Linked DNA regions of Homo sapiens: region 1 is linked to region 2. A link means that fine-mapping ties the variant in region 2 to the expression of a gene that starts in the linked region. Tissue or cell type: whole blood. Region 2 holds a variant in brackets; the other region holds the start of a gene. All regions are shown on one strand. Distances are between the middles of the regions.

Region 1 (8,000 bases), 230 kb after region 2:
TAAGAGTCCCTAAGAAAGATTTTTTAAAAATACAAATTACAGAAAAAAGCTAAAAATGTATCTCTACTGTTAAACATTTAAAAAATAAAGGCCACAAGAAGTAAGATTGACGTCTTCTCACAGCCTATTTTGTTCTTGTCTACAAAGGGGAATCTCTTTATTTTTTCTTTTTTAAAAATTTCTTTCCCAGTATAATCAAATCATACACTAAGAGGTTTTAGGTTTCTATTATACATTCTTTCCATTGGAATATTACAAGAGGTGTAATTTTCACTTGACAGAATAAACACAATCAAGTTCTGTGTCTAAGTCATAGAGCCCCATGAATTCCTAACATTTTAACTGCAATTCAATTATTTATTCTGTAACAATGAGGTAATAAACCAGGTACTAAGCAGCAATGTAGACCAACAAGATCCTTGTTCCCAAAAAACTCAAATTATCTGCAGTAAAGGACCAGTTGCTAATTGTTTTTTTAAAAAATTTCTATTCATTGGCCAGGCGCAGTGGCTCATGCCTGTAATCCCAGCACTTTGGGAGGCCGAGGCGGGTGGATCACCAGGTCAGGATATCGAGACCACCCTGGCTAACACGGTGAAACCCCATGTCTATGAAAAATACAAAAAATTAGCCAGGCTTGGTGGCGGGCGCCTGTAGTCCCAGCTACTCAGGAGGCTGAGGCAGGAGAATAGCATGAAGCCGGGAGGCGGAGCTTGCAGTGAATCGAGATCAGTCACTGCACTCCAGCCTGGGCGACAGAGCGAGACTCCATCTCAAAAAAAAAAAAAATTATATTCATTGTGGACCAGCAATTTTTAAGATACAATTAAGTTTCTAGTCCTAGTGCAGTAACTCGTGCCTGTAATCCCAGAGCTTTAGGAAGCTGAGGCAGGAGGATTGCTTGAGCCCAGGAGTTCAAGGTTGCAGTGAACTGTGATCAGGCCACCTGGGGGACAGAGTTAGAATCTGTCTCTAAAAATAACAATAATTTTTATAAAGTTTCCAGAAAAAAAAGGCATACAAAATAAAATCCCAAACGTTTCATTACTAGAGTCAATAGACATAAAATTATTCTGCTAAGTTGCTACACAAGTTTCTAAATGCTTAGTTTTCTTTTATTATCTCAATCCCAGCAGCCCCGTAACTACACTTTAAGCAGTACTGCTATAAACTCCTACCACACAGAGAGGCATTGCTGCACATTTCTTAATCTACGACTGTGCTTTATCCGGGAAGAGCAGGCATTTTTTTTGTATTTTTATTTACTCATATCTTTCTTTTATCCAGACACATTTTCCACAGTTTAGAGTCTGTGCAAATCTTCCTGGCCTCCTGCCACTCACAGCAATCTTGATCCATCTTTGAGATTCCTCACTTCATTCCTAAAAAAACTAATGATCTGCCCCAAATTATATATTAACTGTGAAACTTTGCATTTTCTAGTAATTCATTTCTCCCTTTGGTTCCAAATATTTCAATTCCTTAAAAGAAAAACAAAAACAAACAAAAAAACAGTGCTTAAAAGTACTTTGTGTCTAGAATTATAAGGGAGACTTTAAAAAGTATCGTTTTTGTGATAAATACTCTTAGAAAGGTAATGAGTACCCAGTCACTGAAGGGTGGTGTCTGCCTTTCATTTTTCTTTTCAGGCTGGGATAGGGATAGTGTGTGGGTGGGTGGGCAGTGTTCCCACACAGCTAGCCAGAGAAGGGACCAGGGAGCTGCTACAATCCCAGTTCCACTGTCTTGGTCCTGAAACCTGAATGGAGGCCGGGCACAGTGGCACACGCCTATAATCCCAGTGCTCTGGGAGGCTGAGGCAGGCGGTTCACCTGAGGTCAAGAGTTCAAGACCAGCCTGGCCAACATGGCGAAACCCTGTCTCTACAAAAATACAAAAATTAGCCAGGCATGATGGCGGGTGCCTGCAATCCCAGCTACTCAGGAGGCTGAGGCAGGAGACTTGCTTGAACCTAGGAGGCAGAGGTTGCAGTGAGCCGAGATCATGCCATTGCACTCCAGCCTGGGTGACAGAGCGAGACTCCGTCTAAAAAGAAAAAAAAGAAAAACTTAATGGAAGGAAGTCTGATGTTTCCCCAGAACAAATGCTCAAAGCAGTCACTACTCACTGGCACTCTAGCTGGACCTTGCTCCTGGGCAAGTGCTACAAAGAAAAACACCTCTAAGGTGGTGGGAAGAAGAACGGGACACTGAGAAAAAGGGGGAATACAGTGCTGCTGGGAATGGTTAGGTAACTGATGGCTCCGGCCCTCCCTCAAATTTCTAACATAAAAAGATGTTGGTACTGGGAAGAGAAAATAAGAACACCATAACAGGCTGGCTGCAGTGGCTCACGCCTGTAATCTTGGCACTTAGGGAGGCCGAGGCGGGTGAATTATTTGAGCCCAGGAATTTCCAGACCAGCCTGGGCAACATGGCAAAATCCCATCTCTATTAAAAAATACAAACAAATTTAGCCAGGCATGGTGGCCCCTTGCCTGTAGTCCCAGCTACTTGGGGGGCTGAGGTGGAAGGATCACTTGAGCCCAGGAGGTCAAAGCTGCAGTGAGCCGAGATCACAGCACTGCACTCCAGCCTGGGTGACAAAGTGAGACCCTGTCTCAAAAGAAAAAAAGGAACAACAATAAGAACACCATAACAAATAAATATTATTTTTGGTGCATTGACAATTGTGTATAAATCAACACTTCATTAATATGAGAACAGAAGGATATCAATTTGTTGGTTGCTGACCAATATTATCAACAATTCAAGGCTTTACTAACAACCAACCAATGATTTGGCAGGTCTCTCAAACGAGGGGAAATAAAGAATTTTATGAATTCTCAAAGATGGAAAATAGAAAACTGATGACCACACAGCCTTCAAAACTTGCCCAATACCTCTAATATCCACGGCAATCAGTTGCTCACGTAAGGAACCAGCATTTTGTGGAGTAGTAGTTAATAAAGATGACAAGTGAAGAATAGAGAATAAACTTAAATTCTACAAAGATATGAAAAGTTATTGAGGCACAAGTCCAAAGGCTATAATAAAGAAAAAAGAAAAAAAGTTTTGAAAAATTAAAATGTAAATAAAGATGTGGTGGGAGATCTATCAGGGAAGTGCAGGAAGAACCAAGCAACTCACAAACCACCCTCTGGCTGGATGTGCACAGCCTGCCCAGTCCCGTCCGGCGAGTCACCTCAGTCCCATCCAGGTAAGGCCGGACAGGTGGCTCCCCAGGTGGCAAGAGGCAAGCGAGCGGCCCAGGTCATACACCGGGCCCCTGGCACCCTCAGCCTGGACAGGAAGGGCGCGCGGGATTCAGCCCAGACGAGGGAGGGAACGCGAAGACTCAGCCGGTCTGGGCGCGCCGTTCTGGCCCCAGGGCCCGCGGGTGCTGCAGGTGGCCGCGTCCAGGGCGGTAGGTGGGGCCTGCCCGCTCGCCTCCCGAGGCCGGACCCCGGGACTCAGCGAAACCCAGTCAGACCCGCGCCCCACGCCCGCCCCCAAGTCACCTTCTGCACGCTGGAGCCGCAGACCCGCGCCGCCCGGTCATAGACGTGGCAGCGGATCACAGAACTGCCCACATCCAGCCCCAGCACGAAGCCGGGGTACCGCGGCTCCTGCGCTCTCTGCTCCGGGTCCGTGAGCAGCCCCGACATCCCGATCCCGCACGCCTCTCCGCTACAGCCGCCTACCCAGAGGGCGCGCTACAAATCCCAATGCTCCAGAGTCCCCGGGCGGCCCAACCCGGGCCCCAACCCGGCTCAGCCGGAGAGCCTAGAGAGGCCTGGCCCCTGCCGCCGGCTCCACCCCGACGCCGTGACGCCACGGGCGCGCGCCGGCGGCCGCGCGGGAGGGGTGGAGGTGAGCGGGTTTGCGCCGTGATCTGCAGCCCCAGATCGCCAGCCATGCTCAGCCTCCAGTCGCCGGCCGCGGTTGGATTGACTTGGCCCTTAACTCTTGTTTTTTTTCTTTTTGAGACGGAGTCTCACTCTGTCGCCCCGGCTGGAGTGCGGTGGCGCGATCTCGGCTCACTGCAACCTCCGCCTCCCGGGTTCAAGCGATTCTCTTGCCTCAGCCTCCCGAGTAGCTGGGATTACAGGCGCGCTCCACCACGCCCGGCTATTTTTGTATTTTTAGTAGAGAAGGGGTTTCACCATGTTGATCAGGCTGGTCTCGATCTCCTGATCTCGTGATCCGCTCGCCTCGGCTTCCCAAATTGCTGCGATTGCAGGCGTGAGCCACCGAGCCCGGCGGCCCTTAACTCTTAATTTTTTCTTTTGCTTCTCCAGCTTCCTGAGAGGCAGCGCCAGCGTTTCTCTTAACCCTAGCTACATTTGAAGAATCTCTGTTAAAGAAAAATAGCTACCCCATATGCTAATCGTAAGGAGAGAAGTATAGGCTAGTTTATATAAAAATCTCAAAAAGTTTGGAGGTGCCATAAGGCACATTTATTCATTTCTCAACTATGATTATGACTTGAGGGTTGGAGAAATTTTTATCTGAGTAACTTTGGCAGACTAACCTGTGTCTGCGTTCGTGCAGAATTTTTCAAGCTTAAAACATTTGTAGAGGTCACTACCATATATAGTTTCCATTTTTTTGCTAACATTTTGGGTGCGACTTTATTTCAGTATTATTAAATGCACAGCCATTGAATATGCTAGAGTTAAATGAAATAAAGTGCTGTTTTTCAAAAATGAAATAAAACAAGTGACATAAAAAATTCAAAATTTGGCCAAAAGTATTAATATTTATTAACAAACTGAGAGCTCCCCACGACTTCTCTTCCCAGAAAACCTGGTAAAGTTTGCACACAATACAAAGCGGTAAATATTTGCCAAATGAAATACAACGCAAGGAAGAAGACTTTTCTCAGCCCTCTAGTGGGAAAGAAAGGAGAAAGCTTAAGGTGGCTGCTTTGACCATCACACTCCACTCCAGCGGTTGCTTTTTTTTGGAATCTGAAAGCCTCACAGAGACCCTTTACCTTTTGTTGCTGCCCAAGGGGATGGGCTCATCCAGACACTTGGCCAAAAGGAACAAGGTGTCCTGTGGAAATTTCGAGATTCTTGCGGCTTAGGTTCCTGGGCCTGGAGCTTTCCCGGGGAGGGTCCTGATCTGCAAGTAGTGGGGAGGTGGTTCCACCTGCGCCACCCACCTCTCCACTGCCACCAGCAATCTGTGAAGCCGGGGCCTGAAAATATTCCTTATCTTCTTTTTGTAAAATTAGCAAACATATGAATATATGTTTTGTGTGAAAACGTTTAACAGTGCCAACTGGTATGTCAATTAAAAGGTAAAAGATAATCATTTTGGCTGGGCGCGGGGGCTCACGACTGTAATCCCAGCACTTTCGGAGGCCGAGGCGGGCGGATCACTTGAGGTCAGGAGTTTGAGAGCAGCCTGGGCAACATGGTGAAACCCCGTCTCTACAAAAATACAAAACTTAGCCGGGCGTGGTAGCGGGCTCCTGCAATCCCAGCTACGGGGGAGGCTGAGGCAGGAGAATTACTTGAAGCCGGGAGGCGGAGGTTGCAGTGAGCCGAGATCATGCCACTGCACTCCAGCCTGGGCGACAGAGCAAGACTCTGCCTCAAAATACATACATACATACATACATACATACATACATACATACATACATACTTACATACATACATACATACATACTCATTTTGAATCAAAACTTTTTTTAGACAGGGTCTTGCTCTGTCGCCCAGGCTGGAGTGCTGTGGTGCCATCTCAGCTCACTGCAGCCTCGACCTCCCGGGCTCAGGCGATCCAACTGCCTTAGCCTCCCATGTAGCTGGGACTACAACCACCACGCCCGCCTAATTTTTGCATTTTTTTGTAGAGACTCTGTTTCGCCATATTGGCCAGGCTGGTCTTGAGCTCCTGGCCTCAAGTGATCCTCCCACCTTTGTCTCCCAAAGTGCTGGGATTATGGGTGTGAGCCATTGTGCCCAGCCAAATCATTCTTTTTTTTTTTTTTTCTTTTTTGAGACGGAGTTTTGCCCTTGTTTGCCCAGGCTGGAGTGCAGTGCTGCGATCTCGGCTCACTGCAACCTCCGCCTCCCGGATTCAAGCGATTCTCCTGCCTCAGTCTCCCAAGTTGCTGGGACTACAGGCCCTCTCCACCATGCCCAGCTAATTTTTGTATTTTTAGTAGAGACGGGGTTTCACCATGTTAGCCAGGATGGTCTGGATCTCCTGACCTCGTGATCCGCCCGCCACGGCCTCCCAAAGTGCTGGGATTACAAGCGTGAGCCACTGCACAGGGCCAAGTCATTCTTTTGACCAAATTGTCGTGTTAATCAACTTGCTTTCAGACAATTTGACAAAATTGGCTCTTTGGCCATACAACGTGAAGCTTGGAACATACACCTGGAAGAGTATGTTTTTTTTCTTTGTACCCTGTTCAACAGTACTGATTTGTTCCAAGTGGCCTCAAGGACTGACTGCCTTCACCAGTGCTGGCCATTTTGGTCGTGTGTGTGTGTGAATTATTGTAATTCGAAATAAATGACTAATGGGTCCAGTACTTGTCAGGGTTCTACAGAGAAATAGAAACAATAGGATAGAGAGAAAGAGAAAGAGAGGTTTATTATTTTCAGGAATTGCTTCATGTGATTGTGAGGGCTGGCAAGTCCTGGATATTTGTGGGGCAGGCTAGCAGGCTGGAAACTCAAGAAGAGTTTCCATGTTGCAGTTTTGAGGAGACTTCCTTCTTTGGGAAACCTGTCTTTGTTCTTAAAGCTTAAAACCAATTGTATGAGACTCACCCAGGTTATGAAGGGTGATCTGCTTTACTCAAAGTCTACTAATTTAAATGTTAATTATTTCTAAGAAATACCTTCACAACAACACCTAGACTGGTGTTTGACCGAACAGCTGGGCATACAGTGTGTCTAACTAGCCTAGCCAAGTTCACACATAATAGTAACCATATCAGTTCCCCATTCACAACAGAGAAAACGGCTTTGTATTACCTGATGTTAATATTTAGTATATTTCTCAAAGTGATATTTCTTGGCTTCTTGAAACCTGACACTTCCTTAATGATCCTTTTTATAAATTCAAATAAATTATATTGAGTATTATCAAATCATAGAATTTGAAAACAGGGGCCTTAGAAACCACTTAATCTAGTGTTTCTCAAATTGTTTTCAGATCTTGAACAACTTTGAGGCCATAATGAACACTATCTTCCCAAGAAGATGCTTATACACACAAAATTTTGCACATAACTTCAGGTGCTGGGTGTTGGGTAAAGCAAACATAAAGATCTCAGATAAAAATCAAGATCTTATTTCACTGTTGAGTAGGAGAGGCCTGGGAGAACAAAGAGATACCTGTTTCTCCCACTTGCTTTGTTCTCTGTCAGCACCTCTAACCCTGCTCTTCTCTAAGGGAAAGGAGTATATGGGCAACAAGGCACAGGGCTCAGAGGCTTCTAAGGCCTTTGATAGCTGGTCAGTCATTCTTTTTTCTTAATTTTTAAAAAATTTTATGGATACATAGTAGGTGTATATATTTTTGGGTTACATGAGATATTTTGATACAGGCATGATAATCACATCAAGGTAAATAGGGTATCTTTTATGTCAAGCATTTATCCTTTGTGTTGCAAACAATCAAATTATACTCTTATTTTTAATGTACAACTAAATTGACTGTATCAAAAAATAGTCGATGTTGGTGTGAATGTGGTGAAAGGGGAACACAGACTGCTGTTGGGAATGTAAATTAGTACAGCCTCTATGAAAAACAGTGTGGAGATTCCTTAAAAGAGCTAAAAGTAGATCTACCATTTGATCCAGGATTCCCATTACTGGGTATCTACCCAAAAGAAAATAAGTCATTATATGAAAAATACACCTACACAAATATATTTATTATGGCACAATTCACAATTGCAAAGATATGGAACCAACCTAAGTGCCCATCAACTAATGGGTGAATAAAGAAAATATGGTATATATATATACA
Region 2 (8,264 bases):
AGAAGAAAAAAAAAGCATAAAGAAAAAAATGAAACACCACTGTGCTAAATCTTATTTAGAACAAGGAATAAAGAAAAATACATGTAGCAATCTTCGTGGTTTGACAGACGGGTGGTGGGGATACATTACAGAAAAGTTATATTCAAAACTTTTTAAAAAATGATAAAAAAAAAATGCTAGGAAAAAAAGCCACTGAACCAAATGTAGAAAGAGAAAGTTGAACCAATGGCTACACTATAAATTTAACCTAACACTTTTATGTGTTCTCACTTATAGATCTTTAGAATTCTTACTTACAAAGGAGAATAAAGAGAATCTTGGTTTTTGTACTGTTTGCAGTGCAGAGGTGCCACCAATCATAACTGACAAATAGTTCCATTTTAAGGCCTTAAACATTGCTAAATACCTCTGCAAGAACTTGTTCTGTTGCCCTTTCGAAGGATAAACACCAGTAAAGACCAGTTTGAGTTGGAAAGAGGACTTTCTGTTAGAGAGTAAAGAACATTTCATTTCTATGATACAGCAGCTCCTCAGAAGTGATTGTATCTGTTGAAAACGATTAGCACCAAGAAGCAAACAACAAAAGCCACCAAGGAACTGAAACAGCACTAGTGTCAGGGCAAGAAAACACACATCCTTTATACATATTCCCATGGTTCTCACTCAGAACCTAGTCACTTTCATTTTAGACTGAATTCTAACATATTTGGCCATCTAATTTCTCAGGGCACAGCAAATCAGAGATAGCAAATTAGAAAATGTAGGAGTTTCTGACATGGCAGGCATTTATTTTTTACTTAACAGACTACAAGTGATTCTGATGCACAGCCAGAATGGAGAAGCCACTGTCCTAATATTCTAAGATAACATGAACTTTCCTTATGCCCAACATATTGCTTAAGAAAGAAGCAAGTTTGTTATGATTTATAAATGTTTTAAGAAAAACTTAGCCGGGTGTGGTGGCTCATGCCTGTAATCCCAGCACTTTGGGAGGCTGAGGCAGGAGAATTGCTTGAACCCGGGAGGCAGAGGTTGCAGTGAGCCAAGATAACGCCACTGCACTCCAGCCTGGGTGACAGAGCAAGACTTCATCTCAAAAAAAAGAAAAAAGAAAAAATTGTTAAACTTTGGGCATGTTAGGGTAATGTGGAGTATTCACTTTGATAGAACTCTTCATTTACCAGATGGAAAGAGAGGAGAGACTAAAGGACATACTACCAATAGTCAATCTGCTCACAGGGTAATTTCTACTGAAACCATACAGATACTATGAGTGAACTGGGGCACTCAATGCAGAATGAAATAATGGCAAGAACTGAAAGAAGTTAAAGTTACATGAAGAAAAACATCGCATTAAACCAGAGCAGTGGCAATGCCAACAGCCTCTCTATATAGCCAAATCTTCCAAACAAAATAGTTAGACTTATACTCACCTTTCTGAAAAATCAGAGTCTATAAATTTTCTAGCCCGTTTTCTATCACTAAAAAGGAAAAAAGATAGCATAAAAACAATACATACTTAAATACAATTTAATTTCATTAATACTTTATTATAACTTGTCTAAAATTATACACTGAATATATTCAAAGACTAAAACTAGCAAATACAAAAGATAGGTACATAAAATAAATCTTAATTTTATCATGTGAACAAGGTATCACAACTTAATAATCATAAGTTGAAAAGAGCTCAATGACTAGCTAGAGAGGAAAACACTGCAGACTTGCAAACAAGATAGAGAAAAATTTTCTTCACTCTGCGAAATACTGACTATAAAAACACCAGACAATCCTGCCACCTCCAATATAAAGCACAAATGGGGCTGAAAACATCCAGACCCTGGTCATTTCCAAAGTGGGCCAGCACTGCTGGCACAGGCTTGGCTTTCACGTTATAATCTTTCAAGGCTATAGAGAAATCCAGGGTAACCTTTGATCTACATAAGAATGTTCATAAGGATTGAATAACACCCATAGGATTCCAGGTAATTCTGTCATTTCAGCTCATTTGATAATGGAAAAGTATGCATATACAAAACTCTTCTGTCTTTAATGTATTTGTGTTTGTACATGTGTGTAGGCATGTATTTATGTATATTAATATGTATGCATATTAAAGCACTTTGCCAGGATTATTAATTCACTTAATATCCTTGAAGCAAGGAGATTCTTACTTAACTAAGACTTACCATCTGCTTGCTCAAACTCACATATGACAGAATCACCAATGCAGTATTCCACCATGTAAATAACTTCTAAAGTAACAAAACGTCTAAGGTAACAAAATGAGGTTTTGAGTAATTTATCTTACTTATTTTTCTTTTATGGAAGTATGAGGTACTAAAATGATAAAGAGTGGAGAAAGGTATAAGTATTTTACATGCAAAGATGAAACATATAGAAGTTTGTACTAAAAGTGACAAATTAGTAACAGAAGGGATATTGATTCAATTGTTCAGCGTTTAAAAAGAAGAGGAAATTTAATAAAAAATTTATCTGGCCTCTTTTCCTACCCTTTTCTGGTCTTTATGGAAGTAATTCATAGGGGAAATTCTGAGTATAGCCAACACTTAATATTTAACTCCTTTTCTGTGTGAGTTAAAAATATATAAAAATATAGTTTTTATATCTCCAAAGCAGTTAAATATTATAATAATAAAAGTAGTCCTATTCCAGAGTTTAAAAAGTCACAGGGTTTAGTTATGAGTTATTGCACTGTTTTTTTCTGTTTAAAAATAGTTATTCCAGAGATTATTTATATCTAAGATATAAAGTGAAATAAAATAGGTGATTTTAAAGGAAAAACATTTGTTTTTAAGAACTAAACTAAAACAAGAACAGAAGACAAGATAGTAAGAAAAAAATGTCTAAACTTTTTTTAAGGTTTTAAAAATAGTAACTTGCAACACTCTTACCCAGGGACCCAGCCAGTAGCTTCTGCTATGTGTGTCTGAGTAACCATTGCTGGTGCAGGGGTATATGGACTCCCAATCAGAACACTTCCTGAACTGGTTAGTCTCTGTGGTGTGCTTATAATCTGTAAAGTTAGGAACAAAGAATATAATATTCTTAATTATTAAGAAAAGCCTACAGGCAGAAAATAACATTGATTGCTAACCTACATATGAGGAAACCTTGCTGCCTAAAAGGCACTTAATGTCAGTCATCTAAAAATATAAGCAATGCCTTTGATTTACTTATATCCTAGGATCTTAAAGCACAAGTATCCTGAATACTGACATGAGGTCACAATGCAGGTTTCAGCAAATAAATGGCAATTTGGAAGGATTAAGTAGAGAACTGATAATGCTTTAAAAATCAGAAAAATGAAAAGCTTTCTTTGAAACTGAGGAAATGAATTGCAGTACAGCTTGATTTACTAGAACCAGGGCAACAGCAAATCACACTTCCACAGTCCATCATACAGTATACACAAAGATACTATCCAGCTTGGATTATTATATAGATGCAATTTTATCCTTTTTTAAAAGAGTATTGGACCAGGAGCGGTGGCTCGTGCCTGTAAACCCAGCATTTGGGAGGCCGAGGTGGGAGGATCACCTGAGGTCAC[G/A]AGTTCAAGACCAGCCTGGCCAACATGGTGAAAACCTATCTCTATTAAAAATATAAAATTAGCCAGGTATGGTGCTGTGCGCCTGTAATCCCAGCTACATGGGAGGCTGAGGCAGGAGAATCGCTTGAACCTGGAAGGTGGAAGTTGCAGTGAGTTGAGATCACGCCACTGCACTCCAGCCTGGGCAAAAAGAGCAAAACTCCATTTCAAAAAAAAAAAAAAAAAAAAAAAAGAGTATTCATGTTATTAAATACTCTTTGAAGATAGTTTAAAGACCATAAAACATTCTACCATGTGGATTTATTATTCTCTATTAGATATATATGCATTTTTAATTATTCACTATTATAAAGAATGCTGTGATAAACATTTTTGTACAAAGACCTTGCCCTTAATTTCTATTTCCTAAGGCTAGACTCCAGAAAGGGGATTAATGGAACCCCTAAAGACTTTTTTAGAAAGGTACCTTATATGTGTTACCAGGTCTTAAAATTTTCACTGGTTACAAAACAAAACATGTTTTTCCCAAAGACATTTATAATAATTAATACAAAAAAACTAGCAGCCTAGTAATAGCTTTAGAAGTATTTTCATGTAAAAAAAGGGGAAGAGGCATGCTCCGGTGAATGGGGATATTAATGAAACATGATTGGCCCCTATGTGGATAATTGTTGAAGCAACTGCTGGGTATATAGTTCTATTTTTGTAAAGTTTTGAAAGTGTTCATGATAGTAAGTTTTAAGTCCCAACTGAGAATGAAAAATATCTACAGGGACTACAAGTAATTGTTAATAAGTCCTCAAACAAGAGAAATAGTTCTATTTCTACTGCCTTATGCAAGACAAAATGCTAATTAATTTTTATCTCCCTGACCAAATGAAACATGTTTCTGCAGCCAGGGTGAATCATTAAGTTCATTGCTAACTTGCTCCATACATAACTGAAGGGAAGGATTAATAAGCATTTCAAGCTCTTTATTTGCATTTGAAGGAAAGAGTCAAACAATAACCTCTGAAGCATAAAAATAGTTCAGACCTAGTTATTAAAGTCTAGTCAACATTTATTCATTTACCAAGTATTTAAGACCTTAGTTAGAGTCTGTTTATGTTTGACTATGTTAGCTTGGGGCTAGGAAGATGTTAGCACCTAGAAATGTTTATGAAATAGTTTCAATCCGTTCATTCCATAGTTTAAAAAAATAAAAACAAAAGTTAATAATACTGACAGATGTCTGGAGAGTTCTGATTATGTACAATACACCAAGGGTATTAAATAAGGCACTCAGAAGTTTGCCTCATGAGAAAACATAAAAACAGACAATGTGTCTGTACCTCTCATCAAATTCTGCCTTGCATTCCAAGTATGCTTGCACTTCCCACTCCACACATCTGGTCCCACATCCCCACTTTCAGTGCATCCCCCATTTCAGTGCAGGATCTTTAGGGGTGGCGAGTACCTTGCTAAACTATGTCCTTTGCAGGGTTTAACACAGTGGTAGGGGATGCTCATAGGAAAGGTACAATAAATATTTACTAACTGGGATAAAATACTCAATTTTTAAAATAATAGGGGAAAAAGTAACTTCATTTATTGATATGCTAAAAGGTTTATATAAAATCCACTAAAAAAATACAGCATAGTTTCCACCAATCACTACATCACATTCTCTATCATGCTGACCTTGGATGGACAACTTATAAAGAAAAATGTGAGTTATTTGATTAGCCTCTGGTCAACCCTATTCCTTGAACAGCAGTGTCTACAAAGCTATTCTAAGCATTCCAATTTACCCTTGAAACAGATTGTATTACTACTGCAGTATTTCTATATGGTATTAGCAGCCTACATGCTTGGTTTTGCTGATTTACAGGACTTTGTAGAAAAAAAAAAGGAGCTGGGCATGGTGGCTCATGCCTGTAATCCTAGCACTTTGAGAGGCAAAGGCAGGCGGATCATTTGAGGCCAGGAGTTCAAGATCAGCCTGGCCAATATGGTGAAACCCTAACTCTCCTAAAAATACAAAAATTAGCTGGGCGTGGGGGTGGGCACCTATAATCTCAGCTACCTGGAAGGCTGAGGCAGGACAATCACTTGAACCCAGGAGGCAGAGGTTACAGTAAGCAGAGATCATGCCACTGCACTCCAGCCTGGGCGACAGAGTGAGACTCCATCTCAAAAAAAAAAAAAAAAAAAAAGAGAAAGAAAGGAAAAAAAGAGAGAAGGAAGGGAAAGAGGACATAGAGAAAAACTGGCTATCTTTATGAAAATGACTTTGAAAGTGAATTCTAGTTTACATTTTCTTTTTTTCCCTCCCTCATTGTCAGATTGTTAGCTGCGGCTGATCGGAGAGTGATTAGCAACACTCTGCTCCTTTCTCTTAGCACAGGGCCTGGTACATAGCAATTCCTTAATAAACATTTCCTACATGAACAAATTAGAGAGATGACGCACCTGAATAGGAAAGATAAGGCCTAAGAGTATGTGAGATACAGTAAGTTCCTAAACTAGGATAATGAGAGTGAAACGTAAGAAATAAAACAGAAGGAAAGTCGGTAAGACTTGAACAGCCACAGAATATAAGAAAATTGGTTTATAGGGTGATGAGCCGGTCATGCTTTCTAACCCTGAACCTTAATTTTGAAATCCCAGGCCAGGCACAGTGGCTCACTCCTATAATCCCCGCACTTTGGGAGCCTAAGGCAGGTGAGGTAGGCTCCCATTTGAGGTAGGGAGTTCGAGACCAGCCTGGCCAACATGGTGAAACCCCATATCTACCAAAAATACAAAAAAAATCAGCTGGGTGTTGTGGTGCACGCCGGTAATCCCAGCTACTCAGGAGGCTGAGGCAGAAGAATCACTTGAACCTGGGAAGCGGAGGCTGCAGTGAGCTGAGATCGTGCCACTACACTCTCCAGCCTAGGTGACAGAGCGAGACTCTGTCAAAAAAGAAAAAAAATTTGAAGTACTGAAGTTGGAGGTAAAAATATACTTTTAATATTCACTTGATATGCTAAGGAAAATGGAGTTTTAAATTTCAGAGTCCTCCTACCAAAAATCCAGACATCCTTAACTTAAATGTTATCATGTGGTTTCTCTGACAATAGAATTAGTTACTCTGGGAAAATCACATAGCAATTGAACATTACTCTGAACATTTTCCTGCCCTCAATCAACATATTTTATGTGCTACTGCCATCTACAGTTAAAAAAAGCCAAGACAGCATATGTATTCTAAAGGGAAAAAAAATTACAAAATTATAAAGTGGTATATTAAGAGATTTCACTATTTGATGGAATTTTGGTTTTCACTATAAGAAGCATGCAGTTTTTACTCTTCTAAAATAAGACAGCCATTAGATTATCTTATACAGTTGACCCTTGAACAACATGGGCTTGAACTGGGCAGGTCCACTTATACATGGATTTTCTTCCACTTCTGCCACCCTTGAGACAGCCAGACCAACTCCTCCCTCTTTCTCCTCCGCAGCCTGCTCAACGTGAAGACGTCGAGGATGAAGACTTTTATGATAATCCACTTCCATTTAATGAATTATAAATGTATTTTCCTAATGATTTTCTTTGTAATATTTTTCCCTAGGTTACTTTATTGTAAGAATACAGTATACAATACATATTAACATATGAAATAACATTAATATAACATAAAATGTGTTATTTGATTATTTATGTTATAGTAAGGCTTCTAGTCAATAATAAGGTATTAATAGTTACATTTTGGGGGAGTCAAAAGCTACCCATGGATTTGTGACTGCACAGGGGCTGTGCCCTTATCCCTTGCATTGGTCAAAGGTCAACTGTATAAATAATCTTAAGATCTATAACATATAACCATAAGACAGCCTGTAAGAAAAGGGCAAGTATCTCAAACTAAAATAGGTACTGCTAAACTAGTTTCCATAACCACACAAAACTTTTCATGGGGCCTTTTGAAATTTCTATCTACCATTAAGATTTGGCTTCCAAAAGACATGTAAAGTTCAAAGGGCAAGCACAAAAAGAAGGCTAAGAAGCAAATGGGTGAGTTTGTAATGCAAGAATTCCTTTTTTTTTTTTTTTTGAGACGGAGTCTGGCTCTGTTGCCTAGGCTGGAGTGCAGTGGCGTGATCTCAGCTCACTGCAAGCTCCGCCTCCCGGGTTCATGCCATTCTCCTGCCTCAGCCTCCTGAGTAGCTGGGACTACAGGCGCCTGCCACCACGCCCGGCTAATTTTTTGTACTTTTAGTAGAGACGGGGTTTCACCTTGTTAGCCAGGATGGTCTCGATCTCCTGACCTCGTGATCTGCCTGCCTGAGCCTCCCAAAGTGCTGGGATTACAGGCGTGAGCCACCACGCCCAGCCTAATCCAAGAATTCTTTAACTAAACAAAAACTTTTTTAAAAATCATGGATGAGGGAGTTAGAGGAGAAGCGATAAATGGCTGTAACTGGGTGTCTTAGTCCATTCAGGCTACCATAACAAACCACCTTAGACTGGGTAATTAATTAATTTTCTTTAAAGTCTTCTGCAAGGAGTACAAAACTGGGTAATTTACAAACCACAGAAATTTATTGCTCACTGTTCTGGAGGTTGCTGAGAGGTCCAAAATGAAAGTGCCGGCAGATTCAGTGCCTGGTGAGGGTTTATTCTCTGCTTCAAAGATGATGCCTTCTGGTTGCATCCTAATAGCAGAAAG

Evidence for each region. PIP is the estimated chance that this variant, and not a neighbour inherited with it, causes the effect.
Region 1: GK5 starts here. The variant in region 2 is fine-mapped to the expression of GK5 in whole blood (INTERVAL, PIP 0.95).

The regions. Positions count from the first base shown.
Region 1 is chr3:142,221,789-142,229,788 of GRCh38, forward strand. It overlaps GK5 (glycerol kinase 5), which reads right to left and starts at 3,797. Exons shown (of 16, transcript NM_001039547.3): 1 at 3,521-3,797. The coding sequence starts at 3,667. RefSeq lists silencers at 3,331-3,550, 3,741-3,980.
Region 2 is chr3:141,992,105-142,000,368 of GRCh38, forward strand. It overlaps TFDP2 (transcription factor Dp-2), which reads right to left. Exons shown (of 13, transcript NM_001178139.2): 5 at 2,916-3,037; 6 at 1,434-1,481. Among named protein-coding and RNA genes, the nearest start is that of ATP1B3, 120 kb to the left of the region's middle. The variant G/A (reference allele first, on the strand shown) is at 3,572.